3 linked regions of the Homo sapiens genome follow. The protein of the gene in region 1 interacts with the protein of each later gene in a pairwise test. Each region holds a gene or a part of one and is shown on either strand. Other genes may lie near its edges.

Region 1 (3,907 bases):
TGAGTAACTTAAACTTTGGCATTTCCCATCTAGAAGCCTTAGTCTTCTTTCCAGTCCCTTTTCCCTTTAGTCAAATGGCACAACCCTAAAAACTCCTTCAGCTTGACTGTCATTCAGACTGTATCACAGGAGGCTTAGCTTCCAAACTGGAGAGAAGGAACTAAAGTGTCTTATGAATTTCAGCTTCTTGGCTCTTGAGACCGAAAGGTTCTACCTATTCCCCCTGCAGAGAAGCACCCATTTCCCATCAGATGCTCGTCCCTGCAGCTTCTTCCTTCTTGGTCATCATAATGCTAGGTTCTTACCCCTTTCCTGCCCTCTGCACCTCATGTCCACCTCCAGGCAGCTCTGGCCAGTCCCCGGGTATTAGACCCAAGAATTCAAATCAAATCTAAAAACATGCTTATAACTACATTTTGGCCAAAACTGCCAATGTATTTGACTTCCTTTGTGGAAGCCCTAAGCCATATGAAGGATGTCCCAGGTATGTATTTACCCAGATCTCTGCCTGAAACTGAAGAGCAGATTGCTGTATTTAAATTTTCCCATGGAAAACCCTGCTTCTCAAATCCCATTCTAAAGTAGGAAACCAGAAAGACTTTGCTGATTGTGGGGGGAAGGGAGAAACAGACAGGTTTTCACATTGTTGCCAAGGCTGGTCTTGAACACCTGGCCTCAAGCGATCCTCCCACCTCGGCCTCTCAAAGTGTTGGGATTGTAGGCATGAGCCACTGCACCCAGCCAGACTTTCCTGATTTAAATGAGAGTACTGCATCATTCCCTACTTCATGGCCCAAAACTTAATCCTGGGCCAAATGCAGGAGCATCTCTCGACCTCTGGGCAGATTGGTGGGTGCCCAGGCACTAGTCACAGCCTTCCAGCCCAGCCATGATTGTTGGATGCCCCATCCCTCCAAGAGCAATTTGGGCATCTACTCAGGCAGGATAAAATTCCCTAGAGCTGAGGAAGTTCAGCCTCTCCCAGGCTACACAGAGAGAGATGATACAAGCACCTCAGATTGAGATGCAGGATTGGTCCGCAGAAGGAGGCATTGTTGACCAACCCCAGCTATAATTGCTTGTCACCAGAGATTCTGCATACCCATTTCCAGAGATGTTGCAGCACAAAGAGGCAAGACTCCTTCCAATGCCAGGCCACCCAGATAGCAAGAGAGAGAGGCTGGTATACACATTCCTTCAGAACTCATTGAAAAGCGCTCATAACTCGTGATTTTAAGGAGTAAGTTTTTGCTGAGTAGCTGAAGTCAGTGCTCCTTTACTTAGCTGCCTCTTTGGCCTTGTTTCCTGTGGGGTTGGGAGGAGGGAGATGTAGTGTGAGGTAGGCCTTCCCTTGGTCTGTATTCAGCATAGTTGCCTAGATGCTGCTCTGCCTTGTTTGATGGTTGATCTTAGGAAGCTCTAGGTTTTACTCTGAGGCCTCAAACCCTCCCCCTATGCAGTATAGCTGTTGGGTTTTTGTCCTGGACAAAGGCCACGGCTGTTGTGCTGCGCTTCAGGTTTGTGAGGCTGCGGAGTGGTACCCCCACCATGCACGCAAGCACACACACACAGATACTTCCCTCTCCACCCTTTTGGGAGCTCTTTATTTTAGAATGTAACTTGAACTCACTTTTATCATTGGCCTTTTTCCTCTTACTCTGACTTCCTAGCTTAGCTCTTTCCAAAAGGAACTTGAACTTGGCCAAGAGAGGTAAGGAGGCTGAGCAGAGCAGTCTTTGCTCATTCCTGGTTGTTGCCACCCTCATTTAAATGGAAGAGAGAAAACAGGAGCTTCTTGGCTGTTTGCCAAAATGAATTGTCCAGGGAACACAGTGCTCTCTGTAATTACCCTGCCTTTTTCTCCACCCCAACACAAAAATCTGGAAAGGAAAATAAGTGGGTAGGATTAAGAGCTGTTAGAAGCTGAGGACCAAAGGACACTGTGGGTCCATTCATCAAGGGGGAGACCCTCTTCATTAGAGTCCTCATGAAATTAGCCAAATGATGAGTCCTTCCCTAGCTGGGCATGGTGGGTTCTCTTTTTTTTTTTTTTTTTTTTTTTGTTGTTGTTGTTGAGATGGAGTCTCGCTCTGTCACCCAGGCTGGAGTACAGTGGCATGATCTCGGCTCACTGCAACCTCCGCCTCCCAGGTTCAAGCGATTCTCCTACCTCAGCCTCCTGATTAGCTGAGATTACAGGCGCCCACCACCACGCCTGGCTAATTTTTGTATTTTTAGTAGAGATGGGGTTTCACCATGTTGACCAGGCTGTTCTCAAACTCCTGACCTCAGGTGATCTGCTCACCTTGGCCTCCCAAAGTGCTGGGATTACAGGCATGAGCCACCATGCCTGGCCAGGCACTGTGGGTTCTACAGGATGGGTCTGTAATGTCACGGTGAGGGCTCTCTCTAGTAGTAGATCTGGAGTGAGGTGTGTCTTGGGTTGAGGAGGTGGCTTGACTTTCGAATGTAAAACTGACTGTGCCTTAGCATCACCCTGTCCAGTGCCCCTGGGGCAGCTGGTAGTGTCCAGAAGAATGGACACCTGCTCCAGATTTAGATGCCCATCTGGGCTTTTGTTTGATTTGCGGCGTTCCTGTCTTCTGTAAAGCTAGTGAGTTGTCCCAAGAGACTGATGCCACAGCTTGTTCGCAGTTTACACAAACTCAGCTTTAAAATTCCAAATAGAATCTGACTTGCAAACTCTAGCTGCAGCATGTGGAGCTTCTAGATGTTTACTACCTTGAATGGTTGTCAGTGTCACTGAACCACAGGGGAGAGGAGTATGGGGTAGAGCAATGGTCTGGGCCAAGGAATGGTGAGCTTAGGGTCTTCCTCTGACTCCTTACTCCTCAAGGAGGCAGTTAGGGTCCCTCTTAAGCAGGCTTCTATTTCTTACCACTAAATTGGTTTCCTTTTTCATCCAGAAGTTAGAACTCCCCAGATATTCACACTATAGGATCTGAATTCCGAGATTCTAAAATATCTTAAACCACAAGAGAGAAAATCTAGTTCTGCCTCAGCCCCAGTCAGCAGGCCATCTGTCCCTTCCTCTCCTCTGAGTCAGACAGCTCTGGCAAGCAAGGCTCCTTGGCTAGTTCCTAATGCACTGACAGGAGCCCTCCCATTAAGGACGACTTCTACTCAAAATGCGACTCTCCCTCTGAACTTCAGATGCCTCTGTTAGCAGGAAAAGGCATTGATTGGATTGGATATATTTATGTGACTGCGGGCATTTGTGGCTGTAGAATCCGTGACCGTAATGTTATATGTAATGGGAACTATCTTATAAACTTGAAAAAAATAAAGTTTTTATTTTCTATAGTTTGCTCCTGTGTCTTTTCTGAATAGGATCAGCACAGTTGCCCAGCTGTGTGGGGTCCTAATTATGGCTTCATAAAAATTCTAAGAGTTCATTAGAAAGATGTCACCCTTTCAGTAACTGGGTCATTTCACCAAAAAAGTAAGAACAAACCATTTGGTATAAATATACATGGGAAAATATTTTAAAATAATTTGTATGGGAGAATGTATTGTTTCTAAAATATATTGCTTTTAAAGTTTAGAACTGGAGTGAGAAAAGATTTCATTCACTTCCAAATATGCTGAAATTTATTAAGGAGAGAAATCAGTACCTTGCTGCACTGCACTTAAACCACAAAAGCGATAAAACTGACAAACTGATACCAAACCTCATTTGATTTGCCCTGATTTCCTGTCACATCAACTACTTTTTCTCATTTCATTTCTCTGATTTGGGTCTGGCTGTATCCCTCTGGTCTGGAAAACAGTCACAAAGCCTTTCTGCCTTTTAGTCCAATGAAGGAAATCAGAATTGGGTTCTAGCTTCCAAGTACCATACATGTCAGACTATAAGATGTATTTTTCCAAAAATTCCCCAGAAAAG
Region 2 (7,141 bases), on another chromosome or scaffold:
CAGGAGGATTGCTTGAGCCCAGGAGTTCCAGTGCAGTCCAGCCTGGGCTACAGAGCAAGACCCTGTCTCTAAAAACAAAAGAAACCAACTAAGTAAAATATCAAAATTACCTAACAGTACCTACCCACCATACAGCCAAGCTTGCTAAAGGAAAACCCAGTTTAAGATTTCTCCAGGCCAAGAGGAGGAATGAGAGAAGGATTAATTTCCTCAAGTTAACACTTTCCTTAGGTCCAAGGAATCAATGCCTTAAAGCACACTGAAGTTTAGAACACTGTGGTGACAACAGACATTCCTACCTCTCCTGATTTCCACTGGATTAGCACCTTTGCTAATCTTCTCGAAGCCTTCCTTGGCTATAGAGCGTGCCAGTACAGTAGCAGTGGTAGTGCCATCCCCAGCTTCTTCATTTGTGTTATTGGCAACATCTTGAACAAGTTTAGCTCCAATGTTTTTGTATTTATCTTTTAAGTCAATTGACTTTGCAACAGTCACACCATCTTTTGTTACTTTGGGACTTCCCCAACTCTGCTCAATAATCACTGTTCTTCCCTAGAAGAAAAAAATGTAACAGGATCAGACATACCCTAAGGATGATTTACATTTTTAAAAATGAGCAGTCTTCATAATAAAGCAACTACTTCAAAGTCTCAACGTAAGTTGTGTCATTTTTATCAGTCTTGCAGCATGAACCTCAAGGGCAAGTTTATCGACATTCTTTGTCTACAGACAAAATGACCTGATTCTCTGCCAAGAGCATAATTTTGAACTAGGTAATTTAGGAGATTAAAATCCTAGGGACTAAAACTTGTCATCTTATAAAATGAACAAGAACACAAGACAAAGAATAAAACAATCTTCCTATCACTTATACTTTAGTTAGTGCCTGTTATCTTTTAAAGTAATGTGACTTGTTTTAAAATCCGTTTAACTAAAATATTAACCATCAAGGCAAGTAGCGTGCTCTTCCAGGTTCACGCAACATAAAACTTCAACCATGGCACAATTATTGGCCATCCTTTGGATTTGAACTAAAGCTGCTACTTTCTATTTGTGAGGTGTGCAAATGTTGTATTTTAGGCAGTTGTTGGATCACTTGATATCTGAACTGTCTTCAAACTGAAATGAAGCACCACTTGACTGCACACCACCTTCAAAGGCCTCCTCAAAACATTACCCCTATTAAATGAGACTTATTTTAAATATGCTTTGGAACAAGAGAACAGCAGAAAACCGATGGGTAAAACTAGCATCTTGGGGTGGAGGAGAGAATGGGAAGCTACTGTCTAATGAGTACAAAGTTACAATTTTTCCATATAAAAAGTTTTGGAGATGGATGGTGGTGATGACTGCACAACATAAATGTAATTGATGTCCCCAAAGTGCACACTTAATGGTAATTTTATGTTGTGTACATTTTACTACAATAAACCAAAAAAAAATTTAGCATCTACAAGCACATACCTAAGGAATTATGGAAGATAAGTTAAACTCTTCTCTCTACACTTGGCATGAACTACTGGGAAAGGATCCAAATTTTAACTTAAGCCAGCGAAATTCTACCTCGAGTTTAAGAATCCACCTTGAGCTGTAAGTTACTACCTGATTACATCACACATTGAACAAAATAGTTTCGAAAATCTGGCTGAAGCAGTTTAAGCTTTAAGATCATGTCTAAGAAAAAAAGGCTAACCAATACTTCAGAATTCTTACATGTAAACTGAGTTCTCTCAAAAATGGAGATGAAAGTACTGTTGAATAGTTCAGTGCGACTATTTGTGAGTAAAATGCTATTAATAATACCGTAATTACAATAAAATAAAAATACTGGTACCTTTGGCCCCATTGTAACGGCCACAGCATCGGCTAAAAGGTCTACACCTTGAAGCATTAAGGCTCGGGCATCTGCACCAAATTTTACATCTTTGGCATAAGCCCGAGTGAGATGAGGAGCCAGTACCCTGGACACCGGTCTCATCTGGCGAAAGACTGTGGGTAACCGAAGCATTTCTGGGGATGGAAGCAAAAAGATCATCAGAACTACCACCCGTGGTGCGCTGCAGAACAAACATGCCCACCTGTGCAACAGAGCAAGCAACGTGAGATGCTGAGCCTGGCTGACCTCCGCCAGCCACTACGCCTGAATGACGGAAGGCGCCGCAGCTTCGGAACATCAGCCACTAGCGCAAGCTAAAGAGGCCGCCCCGGCCGGCGCCTGACCTATAGCACCAGCACAAAGCACATGCGGCTCCTTCCCCACGGCCACCTATCCCTGCCGCCAAAAACGAGTTAATCTTTCACCGCGAAAACGGCCTTGTGGGCAGACCCACTCCAACTGTGGCCCCTGAGAAACCAAGTCAGCCGGAGAGAGGCAAGTTACAAATCCAAGTGACCAGGGAAGTTAAAAGTATTCCTGACGGTGCAAAAAGCCGCTCAGCAAAGTGTCTCCATGGATCCACCCAAGGCTACTGTATCAGAGCAACCAGCAAGGCCGCGATGCTGGGGGCGGCGGCCCGGCCCACTCGGCGCGAGCCCACGTGTCCTTCTTTCCGAACGCCCCCAGCAAGGTCAAGACTGGAGGCGCGGTATCCCAGCTGCCTGCGGGGGAAAAAAGCGGTTCCCTCACGTACACCACCCTCCCCGGTTCCCTGAAGTCGGCCAGGCGCAGGTTGCACCAGCGGGCCTAAGTGGTTACAATCCCCCAAATTCAAACCCCACGAGTTGTCCCTCCCGCGCCCAGCCGAGGTCCAGGATCCGCGTCGCACGTGATGGAACCCGCATGGACCCGCGAGGCCTGGACCCGCAGGCCTGGGCCTGCGGTGCGGCGCGGTGCGGAACTCCAGGTTGTCGCCGCCCGCACCCTCCAGCTGGACCGCAGAGGAGGAAGGCCCACTCGGGGGTCGCAGGAGCCGGGGGGAGGTGGTGCGGGAAGGCCGCGTACCTGCGGGGCGGCGGCAAGGCGTGCGCTCGGCGAGACAGGTCGTCGGCGGCGAGTGAGGGACAGAGTGCAGGGCGCACACCGCAATGAGCCCGTGTCCCCTCCCTCCGCCTCTACTCCCGCCCCGCGGCACCGCGTGTGCAGGCAGCTCCCACCCACTTCCCGTCAGCCCGGGCCCTGCAATCTGCACACCCTGCGCGCGAGCCCCGCCCCTCCCTACCCGCGCAGGGTGTGCTAGCGCGCTCAGCCCTCTCCGGCCGGCTTAGTCTAGTTCCCGGGCCTCGCTCGGTTCCAGAACTTTCCAGAAAATGCCGCGCTCCCTACGGCTCAAGGGTCAAATCGCGTCATTTCCGGGAGGGGACGAAGGGGTAGTTCTTTCACCTCGGCTGGGCGCCTAGAAAAGCCTAGAAACAGCTCCTTTTTTCTTCCGCCTCCGAGTCTTCGCGTCAGCGTCCTGCGCAGGGCCCTTGGGGCGAATCGCGGTGCGCGTCGGGGCGACCGCCCTCCCTCCCTGGGAGGGGCGAGGGGGCTAGCGGCGACCGCTGGGGCGAGCGCGCCTGCGCGCTGGGTGATTTTTTCACGTGTCGCCAGGGCCGGACTGCGAGTCTCTTTGCGGCGCTACACTAGAGCAGAGTACGAGTCTGAGGCGGAGGGAGTAATGGTGAGTCCCGCGTGGCCCCGAGGCCTGCAGGCCCGGGCCTGTCTGAGGCGTACGGGGATCCCTGACGCCCCTCTTTTGTTGGGCTGGGCGGGAGGGATTGGTGGCCACTCAGTGACCAGCGCCCGATGGCACCTTGGAGCGGCAAGGCCCGCCCGACCCTTTTCTCCCCCAGGGCTCTTTGCACGCGCGTGTGCTGCCGGTGTGTAAGGCAGGGGGGCGAGAACCCGGGCGCACGCGCAGCGTCTCACCTGCTTCTGCAGGGCCTTTGTGGATGTGTAATATCTTGGGTAAAAATCATGGTGCCAGGCAGGGAGCTTGACCCAGCGTTTCCTGAAAATTTCTGGAAAAACCTGAAGAAGGAAAACATTTGACCTTGGAATAAACTAAGGTTGACCTTAAAGCTGGTCTGGTTGCTCACCGGAGGAGCGACAACGACCCCTAACAGACGTAAGGAATCGGGAATTAAACTTGGAATATTGGTTAGTACATTCAAATGCGCTTCCTTAACGAATAAGCTGAGGTTTGGTGTTAACTTTCAAAGCCAAAACGTGTTGAGATGTATAGCACGGTGGCGTTGCCTGTTGATAATGTGATTACATTTAGTTTTTGTTTCAAAACATTTCTCTTCCTACAGGCAGGACAAGCGTTTAGAAAGTTTCTTCCACTCTTTGACCGAGTATTGGTTGAAAGGAGTGCTGCTGAAACTGTAACCAAAGGAGGCATTATGCTTCCAGAAAAATCTCAAGGAAAAGTATTGCAAGCAACAGTAGTCGCTGTTGGATCGGGTTCTAAAGGAAAGGTAAATGGGAGCTGCAGTGGAACTATTTTTTATAGTGTGCAGTGGAGGGAAAAGAAGTAATTCTGGAGTATTAAAAGTCGCTTATTAAGTAGAGTTTATGTCGTTTTCAAGATCATTAACTGCTTTGGTTCTAATCTGTTTCTTAAAGGGAAATGACTAATATAAAGTTGCTTATTTTATATGACCAATGCTATGATGCTTATTTTATGTGATAGTTTCAGAGTATTAAAAATTGTCCTCAATAGGCCGGGTGCGGTGGCTCTCGCCTGTAATCTCAGCACTTTGGGAGGCCGAGGTGTGCGGATCACAAGGTCAGGAGTTCAAGACCAGCCTGACCAACATGGTGAAACCCCGTCTCTACTAAAGATACAAAAATTAGCCGGGTGTGGTGGCATGCGCCTGTAATCCCAGCTACTGGGGAGGCTGAGGCAGGAGAATCATTTGAACCCTGGAGGCGGAGGTTGCAAGGAGCCGAGGTTGCAAGGCGCCCCTGCATTCCAGTATGGGGGACAGGGCGAGATTCTGTCTCAAAAAAAAAAAAAAAAAATCCCCTCAATAGCAATTTGGTAGCCTAGTGTGATCAGTGTTTGCCTTACATTCTAAATTTTTAATAAGACAAAAGAGGCTGTGCGTGGTGGCTCACACCTGTAATCCTTGCATTTTGGGAGGCCAAAGCAGGAGGATCGTTTGAGCTCAGGATTCAAAATCAGGAGTTCAAAATCAGTCTGGGCAACATAATGAGACCTCCTGTCTACAAAATAAATAAATACAAAAGATGTGCTTCAAGGTAAAATGAGGGGGCATTTAAGAATTGAGAGGAAACTTGGACTGTTCGTTTAACCCCTAACACATTGAAATTGCCCTAATCTTAACCAGTTGGTATACCTGGTTGTATACCTACCAGAGGAACAGGTTGGTCAGTCTTGTCCAATCTGCAGCCTGGGACAGCTCTGAATGCCGCCTAACGCAAATCCCTAAACTTTCTTAAAACCTGATATTTCTTTTGCAATTTTTTTTAAGCTTACCAGCTACTGCTAATGTTAGTGTATTTTATGTGTGGCCCAACACAGTTCTTCCAGTGTGGCCCAGGGAAGCCAAAAGATTGCACACCTCTGTTTTAGATGTTCCTCAGTTAATTGTTTAGGCCTCGGGCTTCTAAAGATCTCAGCCAAAATACACAGTAAACGCCGTTGGGGCCAAATAATGTTAACTGCATTGTTCTAGTTGCTTCTGAGGAGGAAAGCTCTACTGAGGAGCTGTCATGGAGTTAGGAATAGGAAGACTTTGGGGAGTGGACACTTAGCTGCAGTCCCTTTCCCCAAATCTGTTCTTTGGAGGGAACAAAACAATCACAAGAGTATGTTCTAAATCCAAAAAAACTTTAAATTTTTGTATGTTGAAAGAAGGAAAATATGACCATTTGTATATGGCATTTTCTGGGTGCTGGCTACTGTTGCAGGTTTATTTCATATAGTTGATAAGTTATGTTAATATTTAACAGTTATAAAGTTAGCTTTAGTTAACTAAAGTTAGCTTTTCCAGAATATTTTCTTGAACTTTTACGTTGGAGTCAGGTTTTAGTTTAAGCCACTGTGTATTATTTCAAAGTGTAACTACAGTGGTATTTTTGAGTGAAGATCTGTAATTCTAGTATGAGTCGTATCACTTAGCCACGAAATATATTTTTAATATAATTGGATTTGAGTGACCATGTTTCATTAGTTGTAGTGATTTAAAAGTTAACTGTTTATGTTGGGTGAACTAGATATCTTTGCTAATAAACATCCTTCCTTTTTTAAGGGTGGAGAGATTCAACCAGTTAGCGTGAAAGTTGGAGATAAAGTTCTTCTCCCAGAATATGGAGGCACCAAAGTAGTTCTAGATGACAAGGTGTGTAAACTTAATAATTCTAAAAAGAAGTCAGATATTTGCAATTAGTTGTCTTAACTAATGGTTTTTTTCACTTGCAGGATTATTTCCTATTTAGAGATGGTGACATTCTTGGAAAGTACGTAGACTGAAATAAGTCACTATTGAAATGGCATCAACATGATGCTGCCCATTCCACTGAAGTTCTGAAATCTTTCGTCATGTAAATAATTTCCATATTTCTCTTTTATAATAAACTAATGATAACTAATGACATCCAGTGTCTCCAAAATTGTTTCCTTGTACTGATATAAACACTTCCAAATAAAAATATGTAAATGAGTGGTTAATCTTTAGTTATTTTAAGATGATTTTAGGGTTTTCTAGTTTATGCTTTTTTTCTGTTTTTCAAGTAACCTGCAGAGAATTTTGGGAAACAGGATTTTCTACGTAGGTGCATTTTCACACTGAATTTAGCTTTATTAATACATGATTGATACTGATACCAAGCCATGGATTTACTTTTTTTTTTTTTTTTTCTGAGACGGATTCTCACTCTGTCACCCAGGCTGGAGTGCAGTGGTTCAATCTTGGCTTACTGCAACCTCCGCCTTCTGGGTTCAAGTGATTCTCCTCCCTCAGCCTCCAGAGTACCTGGGATTACAGGCGTGCACCACCATGCCCAGCTAATTTTTGTGTTTTTAGTAGAGACAGGTTTTGCCATGTTGCCCAGGCTAGTCTCAGACTCCCAAAGTGCTGGGATTACAAGCGTGAGCCACCACAGCAACATTCAGATTTCAAATATAACAAGCTAACGAGTTACAGGTCTTAAGGTGTTCAATACTTTGTGGATACAGGTCTTCATTCCTAACTC
Region 3 (7,000 bases), on another chromosome or scaffold:
GGTAGAAGATGACCAGCGGGATGAAGAAGGCGAAGAAGTCGATGGTGAGGTTGCTGACGATGAAGAAGAAGATGAGCGCGTTGATGTGGTGCGTGGGGATGATGGTGGACAGCCAGTGCATGCCTGCCCTGGAGGCCATGTCAATCAGGTACTCCTTGATCTCCATGATGGCGTGCAGGGGGTACTTGACCACCTGGGGGAAAGATGGTACGTGGGAACGAGGCTGGGACAGGACCCCCACTGCTCCCATCTCACGCCTCCCTCTGACCACCCTGCCTCTGGGCAAAAGGAACCCGCACCCTTGCGTTTTCCCATCACCAGCCCCATCCTAGTGGTCCTCCCTCCCCCCTTCTCCAGGTGGCCCTCCCCATGCTCGCGGTCCCTGTGAGCCCTCCCTCTTCTGGGCCTGGAGCCCCCCTCTGCCCCGTGCCTGGCTCCCCACCTTCTACCAGCGTGACTAGATGCATGTGTGCTTCTCTCCCTGCAAGACCTCCAGCACTGGAGGGACCCACGGGCTCCCCACTTCCCTCCCCTCAGGGTCACCCACATGAAGAGATGACGGAGCCCTGAGATGCCTGTCTGGGAGCTGGTTTTGTGACCCAGCTCTGCACTACAGCAAGGATGTCACCTCCCTGAGCCTCCATGAAGGGAAATGGCGATCCTTACGAGGAGGAGAAGCCGCAGGCAGTCCCCGGAGGGGTGGCAGAGCAAGCATTAGGGAAAGGGAGTTCAGTGCAGACACAGGCAGAGGGCCCAGCACCACTCTCCCAGCAAAAATACCGTTCAGCTGCACGGGGCTGCCGGGTGAGCTGCCCTCCCTATGGCCGGAGACCCTGAGAAGCAGCTGCCAGGCCACCTTCTGCCCGTACACACACGTGCACACACACACACGCAACCCACCCCTACACACACGCATTCACACAAACCCACCCCATACACACACACACAACCCACCCCTACACACACACATGCAGCCCACCCCTACACACACGCATTCACACAACCCACCCCTATACACATTCACACACACGCAACCTACCCGCATTCAAACAACCCACCCCTACACACACATTCACACACACGCAACCCACCCCTACACACACACACGCAACCTACCCGCATTCACACAACCCACCCCTACACACACATTCACACACACGCAACCTACCCGCAAACAACCCACCCCTACACACACATTCACACACACGCAACCCACCCCTACACACACACGCAACCTACCTGCATTCAAACCCACCCCTACACACACATTCACACACACGCAACCCACCCCTACACACACATTCACACAACCCACCCCTATACACATTCACACACACGCAACCCACCCCTACACACACGTGCACACCCACCCCCACACGTGCACCCTCACACATGCACACCCACCCCTACACGTGTGCACCTACACATACACACCAGCGCACCCCTACCTCCCCATAGTCAAGGCCAAAGGCTGCCTTCCCCCGACCTGTGGGTCCTGCTCCCCTGCTCTGCATGCAGCGCTAAGGTCAGAAAGAGCTCTTGGCCTTCACCACAGCCAAGAGGAGCAGAGGGCTGAGGGAGGCATGCTGGGAGCAGCCTCAGGATGGGGTGAAGCAGCGCTGCCACCCAGGGCCAGCCCTCATGCCTTCCTGGTCTGTGCAGAACTCAGAGGCCCTGAGCCCTGCCAGAACACAGGGCAGCCAGGCAGAGGGACTGGAGGGGATGGGGGACAAAGTGGCCATGGTGCCAGTGCTCACACAGCATGGCGTGGCATACAAAGCAGGTTCTGTGCATCTTCAGAAGTGCCAGGGGCCTGGACCAACACCAGGAAGTGGACGCCTAGGGGGCGGCCCCACATGGGGGTAGGGAAGCCTGGCTGCATGTCCAGGGCCCACTGAGGGGCTACATGACACATCCAGGCTGGAGCCCCCCATCAGCTCCGGGCCTCGGGGAAGCACCAGACCCCACAAATCCCCTGGGGCAGGTTCTCTCCACCAGGCCCACCAGAAGGCCAAGGAGGGATCCCAGGTGAATGGCAACTAGGTGACAACACCAGAATGTGGCCCTCACCTGCCAACAGCCTGGCTATCAGCTCTGGAGGACCAGGACACCTGGAAACAACCAGAAGACTGAGTCTTCCACAGATGAGAGGAGAGGGGCAGGCTCATGGAGGAAACGGAAGTGTTATGAGTGTGTGCATGCATGTCTACACAGACTGAGCCTTCCACAGATGAGAAGGACAGGCTCATGGAAGAAACGGAAGTGTTTAGGAGTGTGTGCATGCACGTCTACACGTGGGGGAACAGCTCTGCTGCTTCATGTATATTTGTGACAGTCCACTTAATCTCTGTTTTATAACAAGCAAATAAACGATTAAAGCAGCTAACAGCTCCCCTAGCTCTCTCTGGGGTCAACAACCTTCTACATGAGCAGAGAGGCGCTCACACTGCCAGGAGATGGCCAGGGAAGACCAGGCACTACAGGGTTTGAGGGCATTTCCAACGCTTGCCAGAGAGCCAGAGGGCATTTATGAAAACCAACCTACTCCAGGGTTTGTTTGGGGCAAGCCCCTGTAGTATGACGCCAGGCCAGCTGGCTAAAATCAACAGCTACACGAGTCAACATGTGCGTCAGCCGGCAGGCTGCTCAGTTAATCCCCGTATGGGGGCCTTGCGAACAGCAGGACAACTAAAGGTGGCCTGGCCCGCCACTGCTCACCACCAGTTTCACGCACGACCGCCACGGTAGCAAGGGGGTGGCCTTGGTAAAAATAAATCTGAAATCCTGTCTTACTCAAAGCCATGCACATTCTTTTGCCTAGAACACACACAACCACCTGGTTGAGAGGGCCTTTAAAAGACAAGGAATATTCTAGAACATTACGTTGGATGGCGTCTAGCCTCTGCTTGGACAGTGTGGAGGGGCTGGTCCCCCACCTGAACTCGATGACCAGGGAACGATCCCCTTTTTAAAGCCCCAATTTCTGCTCCCTGCAATGTACACCCAAGACCTTCCTCTGACATGGGATTAAAAAGTTCAGTCTCCTTTTCTGCAAAGAAGGTCCAAACAAATTCAACTCCTGAGATGGAAAAAGAACGAAACTTAAAAACTATGAGGAGTCTGCCTCTATGAATAGAACACTGCAGAGCTCTCTGTCTGGGCCTGTGGTGATCGGCCCTTCTGCTGCCACGAGAAACCAGGAAGCAGCGTCACCACACCGATGGCCCAGCGGACCCGTGAAGAAGGCAGGCTGGGGAAGGGAGCCGAGACGAGATTCTGCTCAAACCTGTGGGCAAAAATGTTCCCGTGTCGGATCTTCCAATTATGTAATGTTAAAAATGTTACGATTTTAAGATATTAAGTTTGTTTTCAGAGGATTCTATCTACGATGACAGCTTGCACCTCCAGGCTCCAGAAGAGAACTGTGTGGAGTCTGGAACATTCTTTGTGGGAGTAAGGGTGGCTCACAAAGAGGTGTCTGTCATTTTCACTTTGAGTGAAGACCTCTCCTTGTTCTACAAAAGGCTACTAAAAGGTGGGACAGCTCTCAGCCCTGGGAGACGCTTGTGACGATTCATTGCCTCCCTCACAAGAGACTTCTAAGAAGACAAACTGCAAAGGAATCGAAGTGCTCTGACAGCATCCAAAACTAAAGGGAAACAGAGTCTTGTTTACTTCTTGTCAAAACAGCTTAAATCTCTCCCTTCTAAAAAGGACTTTCAGGCTGGATACAGTGTCTCACGCCTGAATCCCAGCAGTGTGGGAGGCCAAAGTGGGAGGCTCGCTTGACCCAGGAGTTTGAGACCAGCGTAGATAACAATAGTGAGACCCCCATCGCTACAAAATGTTTTCAAAAAAATCAGCTGGGTGTGGTGGCACATGCCTGTAGTCCAGCTATTTGGGAGGCTGAGGTGGGAGGATCACTTGAGTTTGGCACGTTGAGGCTGCAGTGAGCTGTGACCGTGCCACTGCACTCCAGCCTGTGCAACAGAACGAGACCCTGTCATTAAGTAACATAAATAAATAGGATTTTCAGATGCTACACAACACTAGACTCACCATCCATAACTAGGTGACATAATTTTCCGAACAGGACGCATATGCAAGGAGGCATTATTATAATAGTACTTACACCAGATGGCATAAACTGGGACACCTGGGCCATGGCCGCCTGGCCCAAGGGTCTTCTCCAAGTTAACCCGTTCACCTGTGACCCTCACTCTCATTTCGGGAGTGTCTTTGCCAAAACCATGCCAGCACCCCAGCTTCCTCATCTCCCATTAGTAAGGAGATGATGGCACCCAATCTGTGAATATGCTTGCCTAGGGCCAGCTCTGAGCAGACCATCAGTAAAAACCATGTGCTCCCTTGGTTCAAGTTCTTGGCCATCCTGGCCCATGTCTCAGAACCTCTGCAGACCGGTCGGTGTCATACCCTGGACATACAGCCTGTCCCAAGTGGGAGGAGCAGAGCCTTCCACCTGCCACCCTAAAGGACTCGCAGCTCTGGGCACTCGGGGGGCTCACACTCAGACCTGTCTGGCTCCGAGTCCCTGCAGCAGGGCTGCTGTGCCTGCTGCTCTTTGGGCTGAAGCTGCTCCTGCAGCACCTGGGTTCCTGCTCTTCCCCCCCACCGGAGGGCGGGCCTACTCTGACCTTCTCCCTGGCTCGAGGACGGTGACCTTTCAGCCTGCTGCCTGCCTGACAGTTGGTGGCCCAACCATCTCCTGGTCCTGGCCCTGACTCACGCGCCCATCTGAATACAATGATGGCAGTTCCTCCAGGTTCTCAGTCAGTTCAGAAGACAGAACCCCAGGGTGCCTGCATGATACTGCCCGCAGCCTCTGTGACAATCATCTGCTGGGGCCCCCTGTGCTGGCCTCAGCTTGGGGATCCTGGGTCAGGAGGCCAAGCTTCTGGAAATCCTGGTGTTCTCTGCAGAGTGAGACAGGCACACATCTAATTCAACCATGCGAGCTGAACTGTGAGCAACTCTGTGAGAGGCCATAGGGCCACATGGCCAAGAAAACAAGCTGTCAGGCCAGGAGTAGGGCCCGCACTGCTGGGCTTCCCGCTCCCCGCTCCCCGCTTTCCTCCTGCCGCCAAAGCTGCTCATGTCCTCCAGGTGTGCCCAATGGCACCCTGCACAAGTGTCACCCACCACGCTCCCACACTGGCCTCGCTCCCTGAGCCCTTGCAGATCCAGGGGCAGTAGGCGCCTCTGCACGTCCTCCCTGGCCTGACGGACACGGCACTTTGTTTTCGGGGAAGGCATCTTCAAGGCACTGGCCTCCACTCTGGACCATACATGGAGAAATCTGCTAAGTGATGAAGTCTAGATGAAAGTCTGCGTCCAGCCCGCCCCACTGCCCCCTACACTGCACAGAAAGACCCAGGGGCCCCTTGCTTGCCATCCTAGCACTCCTGCCCAACACCGCCCCTGGTTTCTGAGCCTGACGGCGCAGAAAAGAAAGGCCTCTCTCCCGAGGACACATCCTTATGACGATAGATGATGACCCAAAGGTACCAGCGGCACGGCTGTAAGACACTCTTTGTTAGGCGCGAACCTCCCCACCTGCAGCTTCCTGGAAGGTGCCCTGCCTGAGGTGCGCGAGTCCTTGGGAGGCAGGCTCCGGCCTGACCGGGGTCTTGGTCACTCACCTTCAGACGCAGTGGCAGGTCCTCAGGGCTCTTCCCCGCCAGCTCGTCATCATCTTCGTCGTCCTGCAGGAACAGGCTGCTGGGGATGACGCCCTTGGCGTACTTCTTAGTGATCTCCACAAAGTCATCCAGCGCGATGTAGTTCTTGGCTGAAGCATGAGAGAAAACAGCATGGGCGCCCCACACTGCAGCCCCACTGCCACCCTCACACAGAGCAATGGGCTGGGGACGGTGGCGTGGGGCCAAGCTAAGAAAGGAGCTGAGTGGGTTCAGGTGGAGGAAACCCTTCCCTGGGCGGCCTGAGGGTTGAGGACCAGGCTGGGTGAGGAGGAAGGGGGCAGGTTTGCCAAGTGCCAGCCTCCACTCCTGGCCCCCGGCCCCTGGGTGTGCTGTCCCCCACCCCAAGTGTCCCTCTCTGCCTAGCTCCTTATGCCTGGGGCCACTCACCCACACCTTTCACCCAGTTCACCTGCCAAGCCTTACAACATGCACCTCCAGTGCATGCTGACACCCTCCTCTTCAGCCAGCGTGGGGCTTCTCACAGCACGGGTGACAAGCCGCCCTGTAGGGCAGTACCCTGCCAACCGCTCCATCGAACATGATCTGCGCCCCCAACCCCTCCATTCAACGTGATCCACCCAGGGCCTACTGTGCACCTGCTAAACCGCTCCATCCAACATGATCTGCCACACACCTACTATGTGCCTGCTGACACCTCCATCCAACAAGTGTCTGCCATGGGCCTACTACATGCCTGCTAACCCGTCCATTCAACATGCGTCCTGCCATGGGCCGACTTACCCCTCCATCCAACATCTTCCACCAAGAGCCTGCTACGTGCCCACTGATCCCTCCATCCAACGTGATCCGCGAGAGCTACGTGCCCACTGACCCCTCTATCCAACATGATCCCCTAGGAGGGAATGAGGCCCCTGAAGGACCCCAGTTGCCGTGGTGAGATGGTGACCAGGAGGGCCTCCAGGGGAAGGATGGGAAAGAAAGGACCATGCTGGGGCAGGGCAGAGGGAGACAAGCCAGGGTGCTGCAGAAACCCTAGGGAGGAGGCAGGCTGCATCCAAGATGGCAGCCGTGATAGTGGGCGCTGACAGACCTCCTAATGGATCAGCTGTGTGTGCAAGAGGAGAGGAGTCGGGGCAGCACCCAGGTGTAGCTGCAGCAAAGAGATGAGGCAGCCTTGGGGGGGCCCACACAAGTGGCAGGTAGCACAGGCCTCAGTAGCTCACTGTAGACTGAGCTGTGAGGTGACCATGGGACAGCCAGGTACAGGAGATGTGGAAGGAGCACGGGCTGGATGCAGCCTGGGCGGGCTGGGGGCTTGC

The links. The genes of interacting proteins can lie anywhere in the genome.
Region 2: the proteins of EYA3 (region 1) and HSPD1 interact in binary tests that used the Homo sapiens proteins (3 or more experiments, as listed by UniProt).
Region 3: the proteins of EYA3 (region 1) and WFS1 interact in binary tests that used the Homo sapiens proteins (3 or more experiments, as listed by UniProt).

Annotation. Positions count from the first base shown.
Region 1 is NC_000001.11:27,969,761-27,973,667, reverse strand, and holds the end of EYA3 (protein phosphatase EYA3), read left to right. Parts: 3' UTR 1-3,324; downstream 3,325-3,907. UniProt on the Homo sapiens protein: Tyrosine phosphatase that specifically dephosphorylates 'Tyr-142' of histone H2AX (H2AXY142ph). 'Tyr-142' phosphorylation of histone H2AX plays a central role in DNA repair and acts as a mark that distinguishes between apoptotic and repair responses to genotoxic stress.
Region 2 is NC_000002.12:197,496,841-197,503,981, forward strand, and holds the start of HSPD1 (60 kDa heat shock protein, mitochondrial), read right to left. Parts: upstream 3,001-7,141; 5' UTR 2,942-3,000; intron 2,011-2,941; 5' UTR 2,009-2,010; coding exon 1,835-2,008; intron 553-1,834; coding exon 300-552; intron 1-299. Other genes in the region: HSPE1-MOB4 protein, read left to right, coding at 3,597-3,599, 4,234-4,398; HSPE1 (10 kDa heat shock protein, mitochondrial), read left to right, coding at 3,597-3,599, 4,234-4,398, 6,199-6,288, 6,369-6,419. UniProt on the Homo sapiens protein: Chaperonin implicated in mitochondrial protein import and macromolecular assembly. Together with Hsp10, facilitates the correct folding of imported proteins.
Region 3 is NC_000004.12:6,293,850-6,300,849, reverse strand, and holds part of WFS1 (wolframin), read right to left. Parts: intron 5,810-7,000; coding exon 5,661-5,809; intron 194-5,660; coding exon 1-193. UniProt on the Homo sapiens protein: Participates in the regulation of cellular Ca(2+) homeostasis, at least partly, by modulating the filling state of the endoplasmic reticulum Ca(2+) store.